Linked DNA regions of Homo sapiens: region 2 is linked to region 1. A link means that fine-mapping ties the variant in region 1 to the expression of a gene that starts in the linked region. Tissue or cell type: whole blood. Region 1 holds a variant in brackets; the other region holds the start of a gene. All regions are shown on one strand. Distances are from middle to middle.

Evidence for each region. PIP is the estimated chance that this variant, and not a neighbour inherited with it, causes the effect.
Region 2: ACER2 starts here. The variant in region 1 is fine-mapped to the expression of ACER2 in whole blood (INTERVAL, PIP above 0.99).

Annotation. Positions count from the first base shown.
Region 1 is chr9:19,443,920-19,454,641 of GRCh38, forward strand. ACER2 (alkaline ceramidase 2) reads left to right here. Exons shown (of 6, transcript NM_001010887.3): 5 at 2,362-2,499; 6 at 6,531-8,586. The coding sequence ends at 6,717. Among named protein-coding and RNA genes, the nearest start is that of MAP1LC3BP1, 14 kb to the right of the region's middle. RefSeq lists enhancers at 2,140-3,339, 2,278-3,024, 7,847-8,066. The variant C/T (reference allele first, on the strand shown) is at 5,142.
Region 2 is chr9:19,403,792-19,414,513 of GRCh38, forward strand. ACER2 (alkaline ceramidase 2) reads left to right here and starts at 5,218. Exons shown (of 6, transcript NM_001010887.3): 1 at 5,218-5,401. The coding sequence starts at 5,294. RefSeq lists enhancers at 4,188-5,045, 5,046-5,901, 5,314-5,463 and a silencer at 4,924-5,213.

The DNA.
Region 1 (10,722 bases):
GTGCTGGGATTACAGGGGTGAGCTCCCGGCCTCTAGGCTAGTTTAATACCAGATGTTACACAGATAATAAATTCATAGTTTCAACTTGTGATGAGAGTTATGAAGGAACATGGCAGGGTGCCCTGAGAGAATGCGCTAAGGCAGGGGTGTCCGCTCTTTTGGTTTCCCTGGGCCATATTGGAAGAAAAATTGTCTTAGGCCACACAAAAAATACACTAATGATAGCTGATGAGCTAAAAAAAAAAAAAAGAAAAGAAAAAAAAAAAGAAAGTCGCAAAAAAAAAAAATCTCATAATGGTTTTTTTTTTTTGAGACGGAGTCTTGCTCTGTCCCCTGGGCTGGAGTGCAGTGGCGCGATCTCGGCTCACTGCAAGCTCCGCCTCCCGGGTTCACGCCATTCTCCTGCCTCAGCCTCCCGAGTAGCTGGGACTACAGGCGCCCGCCACCACGCCCGACTAATTTTTTTGTATTTTTAGTAGAGACGAGGTTTCACCGGATTAGCCAGGATGGTCTCGATCTCCTGACCTCTGGTCCGCCCGCCTCGGCCTCCCAAAGTGCTGGAATTACAGGCTTGAGCCACCGCGCCCGGCATAAAATCTCATAATGTTTTAAGAAAGTTTACAAATTTGTGTTGGGCCTCATTCGAAACCATCCTGGTCGGCATGCAGCCTGTGGGCCACGGTTGTGGACGAGCTTGCACTGAGGGGAGACCTATAGTATCTGGCATTGTGTGTGGGAAGAAGCCTGGAGACTGAGCCCTGGAGAGAAGGAGAGGGTGGGTCAAGGTGAGAGATGAGCTCTTTTTGAGAGGGAACCAGCCCAAAGGCGAGGCATTCAAGGTAGAGAGTGGTAATCGAAAGCGAGAAATGGAAATTGTTATCTCTTTGTTTTAGTAACTGGGAATGTAAGTCTCCCCATGTCATCGGCCTCTATTCTTTCTAAAAACTTTTCAAGGGATGTATTTAGCCTTCCTACAAGAGTATTTTGATTTGTTTTTGAACAGGTCTTTCTGAACCTGTCCCACTTTTATTGATGCTTTCGCTGATGTTTGTGAAAGGCATCTGGGAAGGGCACTAGCCAGTCAGGCTTTTAACACCTGTCTGTGGGTTCAACAAAGAGGAATTAAGCTTCTTCTCAATTGCAGATGTCGTGTTGTATTCTGGGTCCCATAGGAGATCTTGACTGACCCAGGAGTGGTCCCCTCCGGGAAGAAGGACGCTCAGCCACCAGCTGCCCCCAGGTGTTCGTCCCCAGGGGTAGAACTCACCCACTTTATGAGCAAGTCTTTGTCAAGGAAAGAAGACGGCAATTGAAATTTTCATTGAGCTGTTAGCATTTTTTTCAGAAAACCATTTTGTCCCAGTGTGTGTAAGAAGTTATTCCTTCATTCAACACATGTTGAGTGCCTTCTGTGTCTGGCACATTTCCAGGTGCTGGGATACAGCAGTAAACAGATTCCATGTCAGTGGATAAACACACACTGGAAACACATAAGTGAAACACAGAGGGTGTCAGGGAGGTTATAATCACTACCTAGAAAATTAAAGGAGGGAAGGAGGCCTTAGGGAGAGTCACCTGGGAGGTGGAGACAGGTGTTGAAATTGTTAAAAATAGCATCAGGAAAAGGCTTACTGAGTGACATTTGAGCAAAGATTTACATGTGAGGGAAGAGCATTCCAGGCAAGAGGGCACAGTGAGTGCTATGGTCTTGCAGGAGCATGCTTGGGATATTTGTGGAACAGCACAAATCCTGCAGTGGCTTGAGTATGGGCAGTGAGAGGGAAGAGTACACACGAGAGGAGGTGAAGGGGAAAAGGGAAGATCATGCATCCGGGGCCTTGTGGCCACTGTGAATACTTTGGCTTTCCCTCTGGTTAAACAGGAAGATGCTGGAGGCTGTTAAATTGGCTGTAGGGGCAAGGGTGGAAGGAGACTCTGATGAGATGGCGGTAGCATGGATCTAGATGGAGGTGGTGGAAAGAGGTCAGGTTTGAGATATTTTGAAGGGAGAGCTGATGGACTAGATGTGGGCTATGTGAGAAGGAGAAAGATTGGGAGAAGAATAGGTTATGGACTTGTTAAATTTAGATCCATATTAGGGTGCTCGTGTCAAAAATGTAGTTGGGTGTATGAGTCTGGAGTCAGGAGAGAAGCCTGGGTGGGAAGGGTGTCTGTGAGCCATCTGTGTACATATGGTATTTACATCCATGAGACTGTGGAGTGACTGTGTGTTGGGTAAGAACTTCAGTGTCTTGGGGTTGTAGGCATGAGAGGAACCAGCGAAGGAGACACAGGAAAGGTGGCCAGCAAGGAGGTGGAGACAAGGTCTGACGATGAGTGACTCTCTGGACCCCCGTGCAGGTGTGACAACATGCGTGTGTTTAAGCTGGGCCTCTTCTCGGGCCTCTGGTGGACCCTGGCCCTGTTCTGCTGGATCAGTGACCGAGCTTTCTGCGAGCTGCTGTCATCCTTCAACTTCCCCTACCTGCACTGCATGTGGTAAGCCCCTGCTAATGGGGAGGTGGCCGGGGACAGGTGTGTTTGCACTTGCTGTTGGGCTCTGTTCACCCTGCAAGTGGTGCACAGGTGTCCTGTGGGTTGCTGGCTTGCTTCTCTCCTCAGGTGGACGGTCAGATGGTTCAGAAGCCACTGAAAGCACACTTTGTAAAAAGCTGAATTGACTCCAGGGAGCAGGCTTAGCCGGAACGAAAGGCCTGATTGTCATGCTTAGGTCTGCAGTCTTTTACCTCTAACTCCATTATTAAAGCCTAAAGGAGCTTGAGAACTGAACCTGTAACCTGAGCTCTAGCTAGGTGTTGGGGGAGGGGAGAGGTAGGGGAAAGCTGGGGAAAGAGGTGATGTGAGGGCTGGGAGGGTCCTCAGTGGGAACCCCACCTTTAGGGCCTGAGAGACCAAGTGCAAGGAGGGGCCGCACTGGCCATTTAGAGACATTCTCTTCCATTATTTCTATAAGTGGGGACAGAAGACCAGAGAGCTAAAGTGAATTGTTTAATGTCACCCACCTGTTTCTGTAGAAAACAACCTTGGAGTTCAGTAATAGCACATTGGAGCGTCTATACTTTGGAATGCTCAGGATACACTAAGTTAAAAAAAAAAAAGCGGGTTACAAAATACATGCAGAATCCGATTCTGAGAAAGCTGGGGGAAATTGGAGTGGCTTTCTTCCTAGGAACTGCTTCAGCCTCAAACCCAGAGTGATCTTTCCTTTCTGTCCTCCAGGACTTCTGATTGCAAAAGATCACAAGGAGGAGAAATCTGCTGTAGGTTATCCCCTATAGGTAGGAGGAACCCAGAGAGGAATTCTAGTGGTGAAGAAATGGAAAAACTTTGTTAGATCTAGATTCAGGAAAAGGTTGACTTCTATCCAGAGATAGGCTAAAAATATACAATTTGATAGAATTCACTTAAGTTCCCTTGCTCATGTGAACTTTGATATATTTGCTATGAGACCCACCCTACTCTAAATTTAAGACTTGGGGACTTCAAGGAGTGTTTGTAAAAGACAAAATTCAAACAGCACAAGTTGGAGTTTACCGTCTTAGGATCCATTGCTCGATATTTTTTAGATTCAACTCAACTAATACTAGTGAATTTATATAGTTTATATATTTGTTGGGTTATAATTTCCAGATAACAAAATGTACAGATTTTAAGTGTATATTGTGAATTTTGAGAAATGTATACACTAGGTAAATATGACCTCATTCAAGATGGTCATTTTTATCTAAGTCCCCTGTCACACATGATTTAAGTCAAATTCGAAATTTAAACTATGTAATAATTTTGACTCAAACTTAATGTGTTTCTGAATTTGGTATATTTCTGCTTTGTTTTTCAAAGTTGAACCATATTTTCTTTCCAGTTATAAAATGACATATTTTTTATAACAAATTTAAACAACATAGAAGTATAGAAAGAATGGCTCTCATAATTCTATCCCCCAAAGAAACATAATTATTAACAGTCTGATGTATATCCATTGAGATTTTATATGTACACACACACGCACACATATATATGTCTACTTTTAAAAAAAATAGCATCATTCTATACACGATGCAAACTTTTTTTTTTTTTTTTTTTTGAGACAAAGTCTCACTCTGTTGCCCAGGCTGGAGTGCAGTGGGGTGATCTTGGCTCACTGCAATCTCTGCCTCCCGGACTGAAAGTGATTCTCCCACCTCACCCCCTGCAGGGAGCTGGGACTACAGGTGCATGCCACTGTGCCAGGCTAATTTATTTTGAATTTTTTTGTAGAGATGGATTTTTGCCATGTTGCCCAGGCTAGTCAGAAACTCCTGGGCTCGAGCAGGTCCACCTGCCTTGGGCTCCCAAAGTGCTGGGATTACAGGCATGAGCCATTGAGCCTGGCCCAAACTTTTTTTTTAACCAAATACTTAAATCTATACTACATAGATCTAATGCTATACAGACATCATTCCATACCAATACATATATATAATCTTCATTTTTGTGTCTAATAAATGCTTCATAATATGGACACTTTATAATTTATTTAACCAACCTCTCTCTGATAACGGACTTTGAGGTTATTTCTAATTTTCCACTTTTGCAAACACTTTATAATGAACATCTAGATTGATTTGAGTTTCTGAATATTTTCATATGTTAAATTAATATTATATATTGCTAAATCCAGAGAAACTGTACCATTAACACTGTTTACTGAAGTCTGTAAGAGAGCATTTTTTACCCACACTTTCACATATACTGGAAACTCTTAAATCTCCATTAACCTGTTTGAGAAAAATTATATTTTGTTTTTATTATTATGTCTTTTTAAAAAATTAGTATTTTTGTTGGGCATCTTTTCAAATGTCAATTTGTGATGTGTATTTCCCCTTTTAATTTTCTTTGTCTGGTCTATTGAGTGTTTCTATTTTTAAAAGTTCATATCAGCCGGGCGTGGTGGCTCACGCCCGTAATCTCAGCACTTTGGGAGGCCGAGGCAGGTGGATCACCAGGTCAGGAGATCGAGACCATCCTGGCTAACACGGTGAAACCCCGTCTCTACTAAAAATGCAAAAAATTAGCCGGATGTGCATGTAGTCCCAGCTATTTGGGAGGTTGAGGCAGGAGAATCGTTTGAACCTGGGAGG[C/T]GGAGATTGAAGTGAGCTGAGATTGTGCCACTGTACTCTAGCCTGAGCAACAGAGTGAGACCCCGTCTCCAAAAAATAAAAAATAAAACAGTTTATATTCAGCATCTAGGCTTGGCACATAGTAGACAGTCATTACTAGCTACGTAACTATGTGCCACTTATGCATATTTGCAACATTTTCACAAGTACAGAGAATAATACATTGAACCCCCATATAGGCAACACCCAGATTCCATAACTATCAACACGAGGCCAATCTGGTTCATACCATTCTCACCTACTTCCCACCCTGACCCTGATTAATTTCTTTAGTGTTCTTTGTATGTAGGGATTTAAACTTTGTCATATGGTACAAATATTCCCTGCCCCCCTGCAGTTTCTCATTTGTCTTTCAGTATATTAATATTTTTGTGCCATACTGGTTTTAAACTTTCATATTGTCACATCTGTTAATCTTTTCTATAGGATTTCTGGATTTTGTGTAATTTTTAAAAAGATCCCCTCCTCCCCAACATCAAAGTTTATAAAAATATTGTCTTTGGGCTGGGCGCAGTGGCTTACGACTGTAATCCCAGCACTTTGGGAGGCCGAGGCAGGTGGATTACCTGAGGTCAGGAGTTCAAGACCAGCCTGGCCAACATGGTGAAACCCCCTCCCTCTCTACTAAAAATACAAAAATTAGCTAGGTGGGCCTGGTGGTGGGTGCCTGTAATCCCAGCTACTTGGGAGGCTGAGGCAGGAGAATTGCTTGAACCCAGGAGGCAGAGGTTGCAGTGAGCCGAGATTGCACCATTGCACTCCAGCCTGGATGACAGGGTGAGACTTCATTTAAAAAAAAAAAAAAAAAAAAAGGATTACATGCTTTTAAATGGTCTATTGTTCGATAAAGTTTAATATAAATTTAAAACTTTGTACAGGTACAGTGAGGATAAATTTTTTAAAATTTCCACTAAACTGCAAAAGTGGTTTAACCAACATAAAATTATTCCTGATGAAGGACATAAAATATCTGTAACCAGTTGTTAAAGTGAGAAGGTGGGTTCTAATCAGATGTGCTCAGTTACTTCCATCTTAGCATCTCTGTTGTAAATCCTTGGGCCTCAGTCTTCTTGTTTGAGGCCCAAAGGCATTTATTTGCACATTTGTTCCTATTATCCAGCAGGACTATTTAAGAACATTCTAAAACGGGTCCCAAATTGCTGAAGATTTATCATCCTGCTATTCCAGGGATTGTTGGTAATCTTCATCCTTTCCTAATTAGAAGAGGCCCCTGGGCTGCAACTACAGTCAGCAAGGTGCGTGGGTTAGACCGGAAGAAGGAGCAGGCTAAACTCAGGGCAGCGGAGTCTTCATGCTCATCAGGTTCTCACCTCTTGTCTCCCTCTGCAGGCACATCCTCATCTGCCTTGCTGCCTACCTGGGCTGTGTATGCTTTGCCTACTTTGATGCTGCCTCAGAGATTCCTGAGCAAGGCCCTGTCATCAAGTTCTGGCCCAATGAGAAATGGGCCTTCATTGGTGTCCCCTATGTGTCCCTCCTGTGTGCCAACAAGAAATCATCAGTCAAGATCACGTGATGGCAAGATGGTGGCTGGCTTCTCTGCTTATCGCCCCTCATGCAGTGGGCTTCCTTTGCTAGGAAGACAGCCAAGGGAGTTCGAATAGTTGGGGTGTGGGCTATCTTTTCAAAAATCTATTTGCTGGGGCTCTTAATTTCTTTAGTGTTCTTTGTATGTAGGGATTTAAACTTTGTCATATGGTACAAATATTCCCTGCCCCCCTGCAGTTTCCCATTTGTCTTTCAGTATGTTAATATTTTTGTGCCATACTGGTTTTAAACTTTCATGTTGTCACATCTGTTAATCTTTTCTTTAGGATTTCTGGATTTTGTGTAATTTTTAAAAAGGTCCCCTCCTCCTCCCTAATGTGTCTGTGGACCACCTGGATTCCACTGTACAAGGGGAAAAGTGTCTATTCCTTTCCCAAAGATGGAAAATGGAGGGCTTAGGGACACTAGATGCATCTTTCTCAGCATCACTTCCAGATGCAGTGACTTGTTGGGCTGCGTCCTTAATGGCCATGGCAGAGCAGTCCCTTGGGGGATCCAGCCCTGTACAATGCATCTCTTCCTGGAGAAAGCTGGCCTGCTCCAGACCCCACCATTCCCAGGCGCCCTTGGAGTGGACTCTACTGATGACAGACAGACCCTCTGAGAGACAAGACCCTCTGACTCTGTGATGGAAGATGCCAGAGATTTTCCTTTGGGGTAATTGTCCTTAAACAAAACCAAACAGATGAAACACACACAGGACTTGTGGCTAAAAAGGCTAGTTTTTCACTTGCATTTCTCAACTAACCCAGGTTTTACATGCATCTGTGAATCCTTTTACTACTACCTCTGTGGAGAGATGGAGAGACTTCAGATAAACGTGAAGCTAATGAGTAAAACCCTCTCTGCCAAAACCTACACTCCACTTTAGGCCCTTCTTGAAGATGAGCACAATTTTTAAATACTGAGCACAATTTTTAAATACTGACATCACTTCCTCTTCCCCCTCCCACCCCAGCTCAGCAGCCTCAAATCTACAGAGAAGAAGAATTATGGCATGAACATTCCCACAGACCCACCATCTTTAAGACTTGACCTCTGTAAGTTTACCAAAGGGCTCCTCACAATTGTGGTGGGGGTTCTGGTTCAAAATTTGGAGCAAACATGAAGTTTTTGGAAACGTTTTCTCATTTGAAGCCTCCAGTATGCTGTACTATTCTGGAAATTACCTTCAAGAGTCTCACTTCTTGTTTCTGTTGTGTTTTCTGTGGGCATCATGTTCTTCACGCTTGCAGTAGAAGGTGCTTTCTCGGTTTCCCAGAGTATCCAACGGCTCACCTTTCTCAAGTGCTGGCAGTAGCTATGCACTCACGGGCTGGTTTGGGTCGCTGGTGCAGCAGCGCAAATCTGTTGCCTTCTGAATTTTTCTCACCTAATGTGACACTGGCTACAATGAATCTTCTCTTCATCGGGCTGAATGAAAGATTCAAGAACCATCTTCAAGGTGCATGGTGGGAATTATCAACCTCAGGGATACTCATTTTAACTCAGGCGTGTCCTGCTTTGTAACATTCCATTGTTGGGAGAGGGCAGGACAGGTGTGTTCTTCTGTGGGCAGGAGTCATGTCACTGTCCTACATATGTAAGAGTTGGGAAGGTGACGATTTTTGACACATCCAGGAACTCTTACTCTAGTTAGAATTTGTACCAGATCCAAGGTGAAAACCCCAATAAGCAACTGAATTTAGAGTTTAAAAATGAATGACTTTATGCTACATCTGTGGTTATCAAATTATATAGGTTGTTGAGAAGCAGAACGCTGTTTGTAGTAAGAAATCTTTGTGGAACCCCAGTGTGTGAAGTAAATTGTATGTTATTAAATTTATTTAAGGTTAAATTTATGGCATTTACTTAATAATATATGAGGTGGTGAAAATGCAAATTAACAAATTGGTAATTTCCAAGGTAGAAAAATTAGGTGTTGAATGAATGTATATGTTGGTTTATTATAGTTTTATATATATATAGAGAGAGTGTTTTGTTTTTGAGTCAGGGTCTTGCTCTATTACCCAGGCTGGAGTGCAGTGGTGCAGTCATGACTCACTGTAGCCTCTGTCTCCCAGGCTCAAGTGATCCTCTCACCTCAGCCTCCCCAGGAGCTGGGAGTACTGGTGCGTGCCTCCACTCCCAGCTAATTTTTGTATTTTTTCATAGAGATGGGGTTTCACCATTTTGCCCAGGCTGGTCTCAAACTTCTGGGCTCAAGAGATTCGCCCGCCTCGGCCTCCCAAAGTGCTGGGAATAGGCATGAGCCGTCACGCCTGGCCTAAAAAATATTTTTAAAATGATCTTTGAATTAAATATTCGTAGAATTTCTAATGTATCTCTTTGAGACCTAGGAGGTTGATGGAACAGAACTGCTGTTAAGTCCTTTGGGTTTCAAGTCTAGAATTTTTTAAAGGCAAATATCAGCTCATTCTTATTTTAGATTGACCTTATCAGGCATGGATTCTGGTCTCATCTACTTTATGGTATAAATGCTCCAAGGTAGGGGGTTTGGTATATATTTTAAGCCCGGCTTTTTTTTTTTTTTTTTTTTTTTTTTTTTTAATGTGAGAAGCAGAATGTGCTTCTAGAAACTGGTTTTAAAGAGATGAGCTGAGAAAGAAATGTGGAATGGAGTATATTTGAGGAGGACAAAACATAACTTCACTTTTGAACAGAAATCACTCTAGCTTGCCAGCATGGGATGTAAACCAAGAGAGTAGAAATATACCCATCTTATTTTAAGTTGGGTTTATGGCATCGCTCATATATGTAAAAGCACTACAAACTCTTTAAAGAAAATTGGGAAACTACAGAGAAGTCAAAGAAAAAAAAAAGTAACCCATATTTCTATTGCCCAGGTATAATCCTTGTTAATATTTTGGTTTGGTCTCCTCTTTTTTCCCCCAATATAGTTGTAAATAAATGATGTCTTTCAGAGTTGACATTTATCCTGTAGCTTGAATGGCATGTAAATGCCAGTTGTATATTTTTTCATGAAGTGTAGGTTTGGAATACACTAGAGTTAGCTATATGCTTGAATGCTGATCACTGGATTCTGAGACTGACTACTGAGTCTACCTTTTTAATCAAGCCTAACATGAATGGGCTCCAAAAAGTAATGAATGTAATTGTACTTTTTGATGTGCCTCTGCACTTGGCTTGGTGAGTCATCATAAATAGCTGTTAAATATGTGACTTTACAGATTTTGATATGTTCAGATTGTAAAAAATGAATAGTTTATTTCATTAATTGATGGGCAGTCAAGAATCTCCCTCCCTTCAGTAGGGCTGACACTTAGGAGTTAGGTCATGGTTGTGGTTACTTGGCATGGCTAATCAGATTTTGTTCTGGTCAGAATTTGCCCAAGATCAATACCCAGCAGAAACTGGAGTTAGGCTATAAAAAACCATTCATGTTTCCGAGTGATCATTTCAGTCAGCGATTCATGTTTTACAGTGTTTAGTTGTTGATTATTAGAAAAAGTAATATTTTCTTCCCTTTATGATTACATCATTATAAATCAAGTCCTTCCATGAACACATTTAAGGTGTGTGGAGATGAGATCTCTGAATCCATTTGGGGATGGGCTGCATTTTTGGGGAACTCTATGCCTGTCCAGTGAAGAGTGCCTAAAACATTAATTATAGATCAAAGATGTTCTGTTGAGGGACAAAGCTTGATGGTCATCAAACACAAGGCTTTGTAAAAATACGACCACCTATTCCACTTACTGGATCTGTCAGGTGTGTAAAACTTCTCTCGCCAGTTCATCATGCTTCCATGAGCCCTCAGGACTGGGATTTGAGCCTTCCTGGCTCTTTATCCCTTGGGGCAGACATGGAACCATCTCTGAGGGACCAGGTGGATGCTGAAGCTCACCCAGTCAGGGCCCCTCTCCTAGCTCCTTTTACACTGAAATTAATCTGAAAGCTTTCATAGCCAAGGCTTTGCCTAGGTGCTATTATTCCAGCTGGCCAAAGAGAA
Region 2 (10,722 bases), 40 kb before region 1:
CGGACCTACTGATATGTGATGTCACCCCCGGTGGCCCAGCTGTAAAATTCCTCTCTTTGTAGTCTTTCTCTTTATTTCTCAGACCAGCCGACACTTAGGGAAAATAGAAAGAACCTATGTTGAAATATTGGGGGTGGGTTCCCCTGATAGGATAGAGGTTAACATTGTGGTTTTCCAGTGCAGGTTAGAAAAAGGAGAGAGGGAACAGCAGAGTGGTGCAGTGGAAGCATACCTATGGGCCCATAACCCAGAGGTTGATGGATGGAAACCATCCTCTGCTAGCTTTGTGATCTTGGCTGGGTGTGGCTGCTCACACCTGTAATCCCAGCACTTTGGGATGCCAAGGTGGGAGGCTCACTTGAGACTAGCCTGGGCAACATAGCAAGACACCGTCTCCATAAAAAGGAAAACAAAAACAAACAAACACACACACACACAAGAGAGGCATTTCTAAATAGAGGCCTGCTGACAACAGCAGAATTTACCACTGATGGCCTGTCAGTAAAGGAGCGGTGCCTGTCCCAGCTAACACAAGCACCTTCTGCAGTGGCTGCAGCAGTGTTTCCCTAGTGAGGACCTACTTCCTACAACTCTCATCTACAAGTCTGAGCCTGAAAACGACCTCAGATTTTAGCAAAACAAGCACAGTCTTGCTGGCTTCTTCTGTTTTCCTCTGAGTTGAAGGGGTCCAGGGCAGACTCAGAGCCCCTGGTTTCCTCATCATGAGCCTGAGCATGAGTCAGAATCACCTGAGGGCTTATGAAGCCAAAGGTTGCTGGGCTCTATCCAGAGTTTCTGATCCAATAGTTCTAGGGTGGGGACTGGAACTCACATTCGTAAAAGATTCCCAGGGGATGCTGCTGCTGCTGGGCTGGCCTTAACCACTGGCTTAACAATGGGCCACAAGCAGGACCACAGTGAAAAACTCTAGTCAAACAGGAAGATACAGAAAACTTCATCCTTGATCAGGCACTTCTTGCTTCATTTACACAGGTGCCTGCATTTTTTACCCAAGGGAAGACTTTGTGACTTGATAATTTCCACTTGTGGAACCAGTTGAACTGGATATTTACTATCAGATATTTACTTATACCAAATAAACATTGTTATACACTATGTAAAAATAGAAGGTGCTGTCATTCTGAATTCCTTGCAAGGGCTGTTCCTTCAAACTTGCTCCCTTGTGGATCTGTATCACTGAGTCATGTAGGCCAAAAGCATCGTAAGCCAAATAGTTGGAACTCAGTAGTTCTGTTCCTTGCTGTCACTGCATCCTTCCCTCAACAAACTTAGTTTAGAGTAGACATCAGAATTTTGTATTCAACCACTAGCAGTAGTTTCTAAGGCATCATGCAATTAATATAAATCAATTTTAAAATTTATAACCTCCTGATAGGCCCTCTTGTTAAATTACCAATGTTGTATTTATTTTAAAAATGTTGGCTGGATGCAATGGCTCACTCCTATAATCCTAGCACTTTGGGAGGCTCAAGGGATCACTTGAACCTGGGAGTTTGAGACCAGCCTGGGCAACATGATGAAACCTTGTCTCTACAAAACATACAACATTTAGCTGGGCATTGTGGTGCACCCTTGTGGTCCTAGCTACTCATGAGGCTGAGGTGGGAGGGTCGCTTGAGTCTGGGGTGGGGGGGTCAAGGTTGCAGTGAGCTGAAATTGCACCATTGCACACCAACCAGGGTAACAGAGGGTTACCCTGTCTCAAAAAAAAAAAAAAAAGTTAACAATGTTAACAATGGGGAGAGCTATGAAAACAAAATTTTAGAGACAGTGTGACTCAAGTACGGTTTCTGTGCAGTTGTAATTAGAAGGAACCAATGTGGCTGACTGATTTTGAACTACAATTGTCACTGACAATAAGAGTTACTGTGGAGGATGAAAAACTCCCATCATTCCCTTAGCAAGACTTGGAAAGAAGGATGAATTACATTCAGCAAATTTAATATTTCACTGGTGCTAAAACTCACATTGTTTTGCGTTGTTAAATCTCTGAAATCCTGATGCATTTTACCAAGAATGGCATTTTATGATTATGGTTGGCTAGGTCATGGTTGTGATGTGGTGTCACTGCCTGCATATGTACAGACTTGGTGGTTATTCCTGGTGGGATGACTTGGCAACTGTAATCTCCATGTTTCTCTCAACAGATTATATAAGGACCATCTGGAAAAGAAACATGCTGCCTGTTGTCTGGAAACCTTCCACTGACACCTTCAGGTAAGATCAGGAGAGTCCCAGCATCAAAATTTGTAAAACAGGTGTCAGTAGTTTGCAAGAAAACAGTAGTGGAATAGTTTTAAGAAATGCTGCATTATTAGCACATAGTAATTAAGGACACAGAGGACATTTCTATATGAATGACACAGACATCAATGACTATAAGCTGAAAAATGACTCAGAAGAACAGAGATTCTGAATGTAAAGAAATTACAGGAATTCTTTAATGAATTTATTTTTGCTTATACCTTCCTTCTTAGGTATGCACAAGAGATGTATGATAACAATGTAAGTCTAAGTCTGTGCTTGTTCACTAAAAATTCTAAATGATAAAAAAGTATTACAAATAGTTTAATTGGAAATATTTCTTTTTTTTTTTTTTTTTTTTGAGATGGAGTCTCGCTCTGTTGCCCAAGCTGGAGTGCAGCGGCGCGATCTTGGCTCACTGCAACCTCTGCCCCCTGGGTTCAAGCGATTCTTCTGCCTCAGCCTCCCGCATAGCTGGAGGTGCCCACCATCATGCCCTGCTAATTTTTGTATTTTAATAGAGACGGGGTTTTGCCAAGTTCACCAGGCTGGTCCCGAACTCCAGACCTCAGAAGAGCTGCCTGCTTTGGCCTCCCAAAGTGCTGGGATTACAGGCATGAGCCACTGCATCCGGCCAGGAACATCTTTTTAACAGCAACTTTCAATCTTTTTAGTCTGAGGACCCCTTTACACTCTTAAAAAATATTGAGAACACCAGAGAACTTGTGGTTTATATGGTAACATCAATAGTTACCGCATTAGAAATTTAAACAGACTTTTAATACCAAAGAATCACAAGCACATATTCCATTAGCTGTCGGAGAGATAATGACATCACACATCATGTATCCTCTGGGAAGTTCCAATGTACACTGGTAAGAGAATGAAAATGAAAAGAAAGGGAGGAACCACACTTTGAGAATCTCTGGCATATAAAATAATGGTTTTTTAAAAATACCATTATATTTTGATGAATATGGATATATTTCCAAGTAAACTGTTGTTGGAAGAAGTAAAATATTGACTACAGGGAAAATTCTATTGCTGAACAGTTGGTGTAGCATTTTGAGACACAGAAATTAACTGATGTATCTTTCTTCTGTGGCTGTGGGAAACATCCACCCCAACCGCCCTTCGTTTTTGAGATGGAATCTCGCTCTGTCACCCAGGCTGGAGTGCAGTGGCGCGATCTCGGCTCACTGCAAGCTCCGCTTCCCGGGTTCACGCAATTCTCCTGCCTCAGCCTCCTGCGTAGCTGGGACTACAGGCGCCCGCCACGACGCCCGGGTAATTTTTTGTATTCTTTTTTTAAGTAGAGACGGGGTTTCACCATGTTAGCCAGGATGGTCTCCATCTCCTGACCTCGTGATCCGCCTGCCTCGGCCTCCCAAAGTGCTGGGATTACAGGCATGAGCCACCGCGCCCGGCCCTCAACCGCCTTTCTTAGGTGGCCAGCTCACTCCGGGTATCCTGTAGGTCTGGGTAAATCAACCCTAGGGGAAGGTAAGAGTGTATCTTCTACTTGGGTTCTGGAGGGCAGTGGAATTGCCCGTAAAGCAGGAGGAAGGGATAGAGGTTGGGACAAAGATGAAAGGAGGAGTGTGGTTTGGCCCCTGGGGGACAAACCTGGATTTTCTAGAGACTAGGAGAGGCGGCGGGGCTTGCAGTTTTTGTCAGTGATGGAGATCTCTGGGGACTTGCACATGGCTGTGTGGGTACTGGTGGGCAGACAAACACTTGGTGCAGAGGACACTGAAGCACCACCCAGGGTCCTGCTGGGCAGTCAGGCCCAGAGAGAGGGCAGACCCTGGGGAGTTGCTGGCCTTTAGGATACCCTGCGGGTCCGAGCAAGACGTCCTAATGACAGTCACCAATGGGCTGCTGCCCAGGGCCTCTTCTGCCGCTGTCCTGACCTAGAATCCTACAACCTTTCAAGGAAGGAGAACGGGAGCCACCACATACACACAGAGGGTGGCTTTCCTCTAGGGATCCTGGGAACCAGATTGGCTTTCATTTACAAACCGCAGAACAGTTACAGAAGCAAAAGAAGGTAGTTATGACTGGATCTGAGGACATCTTGCCTGAATTGAATTTCCAGCTCTGTCACTTGCTAATAGAAGCCCCTCACAGGGTCTCTGCTGGGCACACTAAATGAGTGATACATGGAAACTCTTCAGACAGCACCTGGCATGTGTATGTTATCTATCACCTCTTGAACCTCGATATCTTGGAGATGTCATAACTGCCACACTACATCCTCTGCAGTTTGGGATGGCTGACGTTTGACCCTTTGCCTAAGTCCCCATATCGAAGGCTAGATTAAGCCTTAACGCTGGAGCCAAGGGGAGGGAGGGCAGGAACGTACTCTAAATAGAAGTGCTCCCCCGGGGACTGGGCGGCCCAACCTGCTCCAGCAGCCGGGAAGGTCTTCCTGCCACAGTGACCGCAGCGAGTGGCGTCCGGCCTCGGAGGGACTGAGGGCACTTCTCTGGTGTAAGCACTGGCGTCCAACGCCGGACGCAGCAAAATCGCTGCAAACTCTGGGTCCAGAGAGGTCCAGGTCCTCCCGGGTTTCTTTTTATTTTAAATTTTTTTCCAGGGAGAGTTCTGGCGCTCCTTCAATCGGGGGAGGCTGCGAGTCTGAGCCAGGAGATGGGCGTGGGCAGGCGTGGGTAGCACCATCGAGGCCCTGGCCACCTGCCGGGTGCTGGGTAGTCTGGAAGAGTCTGGAGCCCGGTCTCCGCCTCCAGGCGCCCCACCCTGGACCCCTCCTCCACGCGGGTCCCGCCCCACGGTGGGCGTGGCTTCCAGGGGGAGGGGCCGGGGAGGGTCTGCGAACGAGTAACCTCCCGCAGGCGAGGCGAGGCGGGGCGGAGCGCGGGAGGCCAGTTGGGAGGCGCACATCCGGCGGTTACCCGGTGCTTCATAAAGCCGCTTTCGCCGCTGGCTGTCGCCGCGTTTTGCCTCCGCAGCAGCTCTGGGCTCTTCTCAGCTGCGCGAGCAGCTGCTCCAATGCCCCGGAGTGGCCATGGGCGCCCCGCACTGGTGGGACCAGCTGCAGGCTGGTAGCTCGGAGGTGGACTGGTGCGAGGACAACTACACCATCGTGCCTGCTATCGCCGAGTTCTACAACACGGTGCGGGGCGCGGGAGCGGGGAAGGCAGGCGGGCCAGCGGGAGGGGGCTGTTCCCGCGCCGCAGCGTCTGGAAGCTGGACGTGGGTCTCTGCGCGCATCTGGGGGCATTCTCTCCAGGGGCTGAGTCAGTCCACACCCCCTCCTCGGCGCGCTCCTTTCAGTTCTCCATCTGTCCTCCTCTCCTGTCCCCATTCCCGACAGCTGGGCTCATCTTCCTCCTGCTGTCATTTGTTTTGTGATGGTCCTATTGTCTTGTTTGGCCCCCACGCGTCCAGGAACCAGGGGTCTGTGTCAGCCCATTCTCCTTGTTTGGGTCAGCTGGGGGCGGTGAACCTGCCGGGACAAGTCTCTTCCTCCCCTGGGATCTCTGTGGCGTGACGCACTTGGGTCGCATTGTGCTTTTTTGCCCTGAATACCTGCTCTCGGAGTGCTGGGAAGAGCACGCCCCCCGCAGGTCCCCGCGGCTGGGGTCACTCCCACCAGGCAGACTTGCCCCACCCCCAAGAACATGCCTATAATGGTCGAGTTATTTTTGGTCAGAATCAAGTTAATTACTACTTGTTTTTTTTTCTTGCCTTTAGTGTCCTGTCTTGTGCAAGCCGCTAATTCAACTCCCCCAGGACTGTGCTTTCTCCAGTTCTGAAGTCTGAGGGATGAAAGGAAAGTTTGGGAGTGATAATGTGCGGGTTTTGGATTTGCCTAGGTCCCTAGATAAGGGTGAGCAGAAACTTCCCCATTGCAGAATCCTGTGTGATTTTAGTTCTTGTGGTAGGGAAGGGTTGCAGCTGGGAGAGGAAATGCCTCTTATTTTGTGTATGTCCATGGCTCAGAATCCTGGTACAGAATGTGAGACTTTGCGTGGTCATTTCTGTGGCTTATCTTTTCACCGCCCAAACAAGGGAAACAGGAACTCCTGGTTTGGGTCATTGTGAATTTGAGGTTGTTGTTTAGGACTTTTCCTTTTGGATTTGCTAGAGAGAATGTCTTCAGCAGGAGTCAGGTGCTTACTGCCTGCAGGAATCTCAGATGATCTAGTCCCTGTCCTTTTATTCATCTGATGAGAAAACTGGGCTCTTGAGGAGGGAGCTGTCATGCTCACATTTCTGGCATGGCTGGGGCCACAATCCAGAAGTCTGGGCCCTTCCTTCCCTCAGTGCTGAAATCCATGGCTGGCTTCCACACAAACACTCCTGCTCCTTTTTTTATGATTAGGTTGGTTCCTTAAGAAAACCTAAGGCTGGGCGTTGTGGCTCACACCTGTATTCCTAGCACTTTGGGAGGCCAAGGCAGGTGGATCGCTTGAATCCAGGAGTTCGAGACCAACCTGGGCAACATGGCGAAACCTCATCTCTACAAAAAAATACAAAAATTAGCTGGACATGTGGCACACACTTGTCGTCCCAGCTACTTGGGAAGCTGAGGTGGGAGGATCACCTGAGCCTGGGAGTTGAAGGCTGCAATGAACTGAGATCGCGCCACTCCACTCCAGCCTGGGCAACAGGGTCTCAAAGAAAACCTGGCCCTCTGCTGACCACAGATACTGTGAAAGACAGTGGAAGTGGCCATGACTTATGTATTGCATAACCTCCCAGAGCATGCTGTCAGGGGTAAATAGTTGCACACAGAGGATGGGCTGGAGTAGTTCTGGGTACTTTCAATAAGGAGAAACACCAGTGGTAACACAAGCTGTCCTTTTGTAAATAAAGAATATAGTGAAAGAGTAAGGATTTCACCAGAGTTCAAGAAGAAAAGACAGCTTGATGACAGGTTCTCACACACTTAGCAAGATTATTCTCTGTGCAGCCTGGGGTCTACAGAGAGGGTCAACCTTGGTTATTTTGGCCAAAAAAGCTAGTGTATGGCTTCTCTGAGTCTGTCTTGAAAAGTGTCATAGGGCTGGATGAAAGGGAGAGTTTGTCTTTACTTTTAATCTAGTCCCATTGGAGCCGTTACTCTATGTAGTGAGTGCTAAAGTCTTTTTCAGAAACTAACTGTTGATCTTCAGCTGCATTGTCTGGCTGATGAGCCCAGCTGGCCCATCTGACAAACTTTATTCCTTGGAATACTCATAAACCACAAAATTTGCTCTGGCAAAGCAGAGAGCGTAAGGTGTCAGAGAATAAGGTCATTGCCTAACTTTGTTGAGTGTAGGTCCAAAGAATTTAGCAAAAAACGTTTCTTCCCCTCTGTTGCTATTTAAAAAAATTTTTTTTTGAGATGATCATGCTCTGTTCCAGGCTTGAGTGCTGTGGTGCGATCTTGGCTCACTGCGACCTCCACCTCCAGGTTCAAGCGATCCTCCCAAAGTGCTGGGATTACAGGCGTGAGTCACCATGCCCGGCCTTCTTCCCCTGTGTTCTTACGTACTACTTATATTTTGATGCTTATCACAGGACATTCCCATGCTTATCTTACTCCTGTGTTGAGAAAGACAGTAGACTGTTATGTGGTGATAAATATCGTCTTAAATCCTCATAATAAGGCAACAGGTCTAATTACCCAGTTTATAGGAAACTCATAATCATTACCAGTTTTGAGAAAAAGTTGGAGGAATTGACAATGTTAAATCAGGAGAAGACCGGGAGAGGGATCTAGAACCTTCTTAATGGGTCTTAGGGGTAGCACATCACTACTACACCTTCAGATACTACTGTCTACCATTACTTAATTGCTATGTGTTGAAGCTCTGCTGGGTACTGTATACTCATTCTAGACAATGGGTGCTATTTATTATATCCATTTGATAAAGATGGAAATTGGGGCCTAGAGAGTTTATGTAACTTGCTGTGGTCAAGAGCATAGCACAGCTGAAGTCAGAACTTGGTCCATTTGACTCTACCAAGAGAGTTATCTTGAAGCTATAAGTGCCACTGTAACTAACTTAGATTTATCTATTTGGCATAGAATAGATATTTATTATTTAGTCATTCCATAACTTAAAACTCCTGTCTTGGGATCATTTTATCTCTAGGATAAAACTCATACTTTTTGATAGGAAAAAAGTTTATTTAAAGTAGTTTGTAAAATTACTGTTTATTGTAAAAGTAATATGATCATGGTAAAAAATTTAGAGTATGTAAGTTGTAGAGTGAAAAATAACCTTCTGTATCTTTCTAGATATTTTCTAGGCATATAAAAAGCACATGTATCTGTGTGCATATAAAATACGCATGTATAAGGCTGGGGGCAGTGGCTCATGCCTGTAATCTCAGCACTTTGGGAGGCTGAGGCAGGCAGATCATTTGAGGTCAGGAGTTTGAGACCAACCTGGCCAACATGGTGAAACCTCATCTCTACTAAAAATACAAAAATTTAGCTGGTTGTGGTGGTGCGTGCCTGTAAGTCCCCGCTACTCAGGAGGCTGAGGCAGAAGAATAGCTTGAACCTGGGAGGTGAAGGTTGCAGTAAGCTGAGATCGCGCCACTGCACACTCTAGCCTGGGCAACAGAGCAAGATTCTGTCTCAAAAAAAAAAAAAAAAAAACCAGCATGTATGGCGTAATCACGAATACTTGAAGTTTTTTTCCAAGATGGTACTGTGTAAACTCTTATGTACCTTGTGTTTTTCACTTAATATGTCTTGGAGATATTTCCATATCAGCTCATATAGTGCTCTCTTCCTGTTTATAATGTTTATACAGTACTCCCTTTAATGGATTGATCATAATTTATTTATCTAATCAATCCTTATTGATGGACATTTCATATAGTTTCTCTCTGTTTTATTGTTTTCATTTTGGTTTTTGAACAGTGATTCAGTGAATATCCTCATTCATGCATCTGGATGTACTTTCGCAAGCACTAATCTTAGATGGGGATTGCTGTGTCAAGGAGGATATTCAGTTTAAATGCTGATAATTATTGTGAAATGGCACACTAAAGAGAGTGCACTGATTTGACTTCCACTGACAATGTTTGGGCATACAAAACATTTTGCTTTGGCCTCTGCAAATTTCTGTTGCCTCAAATTGTATCATCCTTTGCTTCAGCCAAGCCTAATATCTCTTCCATGAACATGTAATTTCCTTTCACAGCCTTTTACTTGTGCACATTTTATACTGTTTCTTCTATATACAAATTTTATTAATTGAGTTCCTTTTTATGTTTTAAGATTTAAGACCCCCTGGCTGGGCGCGGTGGCTCACGCCTGTAATCCCAGCACTTTGGGAGGCTGAAGTGGGAGGATCACTTGAGGTCAGGAGTTTGAGACCAGCCTGGCCAACACGGCGAAACCCCATCTTTACCAAAAATACAAAAAACTAGCCAAGTGTGGTGGTGTGTGCCTGTAGTCCCAGCTACTAGGGAGGCTGAGGCAGGAGAATTGCTTGAACCTGGGAGGTGGAGGTTGCAGTGAGCCAAGATGAGGCCACTGCATTCCAGCCTGGGTGACAGAGCAAGATTCCATCTTAAGGAAAAAAAAAAAAAAAAGAAAATATTTAAGGCCCCAGTCACATAGACCTAGCCACTTTGGAGAAAAGCCGGGTCTGCCTTTTACCTGAGCTTGGCCTTTGGGGACTCTGTTGCTCAGCAGGGACTTGAGGACAGAAGAAAGTCAACTGATCGCTGAAAAGAATCTTGAAGCAAAATACATGCATAAAATCAGCTCATGATCTGTCACTTCCTGCTCTGTCCCCAGTCATCAAGATAAATAGAGCTCTCGTTATATGCCAAGTCCTAAGTCCCGCTCTCTTCAGGCTGAATCTATCGGTCGATCCATCAATCTGAGCATTTGCTGGGCAACAACTGTGTGCTTATTCCAGAGACCAGCTCTGTAAATAGTCATATGGGTGGTGAGGGCTATGATAGAGGTGTGTACAAGCCGCTGAGGGTGTTTTTAGTACTGTGCATGGGATTGATGTACTGTGAGGATAGGGTGGTGGTTTTGCAAGAAGGCTTCTGAATAGAGTGACCAAACTTGTCCTGGGTTTTTGCCTGAGACTTTTCTGATTTTAAAACTGAACGTCCCATGCCTTGGGAAGCCCCCTCAGTCCCAAGCAAACCACGACAGTTGGTCATCCCAGGGGCAGAAGTAAAACAATGGAATGGGTAGTTAGGAATCAGCACACAATTAAGATGGACAGACAATCCACTCAGCCAGGGTAAAAGTCCTCAGCTGTTTATGAACCTGCTGTCCAGAATATGTACAGCCTGTTGTTTTGTCTTTATTTACCCTCTGTCTGGAAAGTGCACATTCAGATGCATCAGGATGAGACTGCAGTATGTTCATGAGATTATTTTGTAGCAAATGTTATGTGGAAATTCATAGAATGAAGAACTTTCTAAGGAAATAATACATTTTAAAAATTGTGGGCTAGGCGCAGT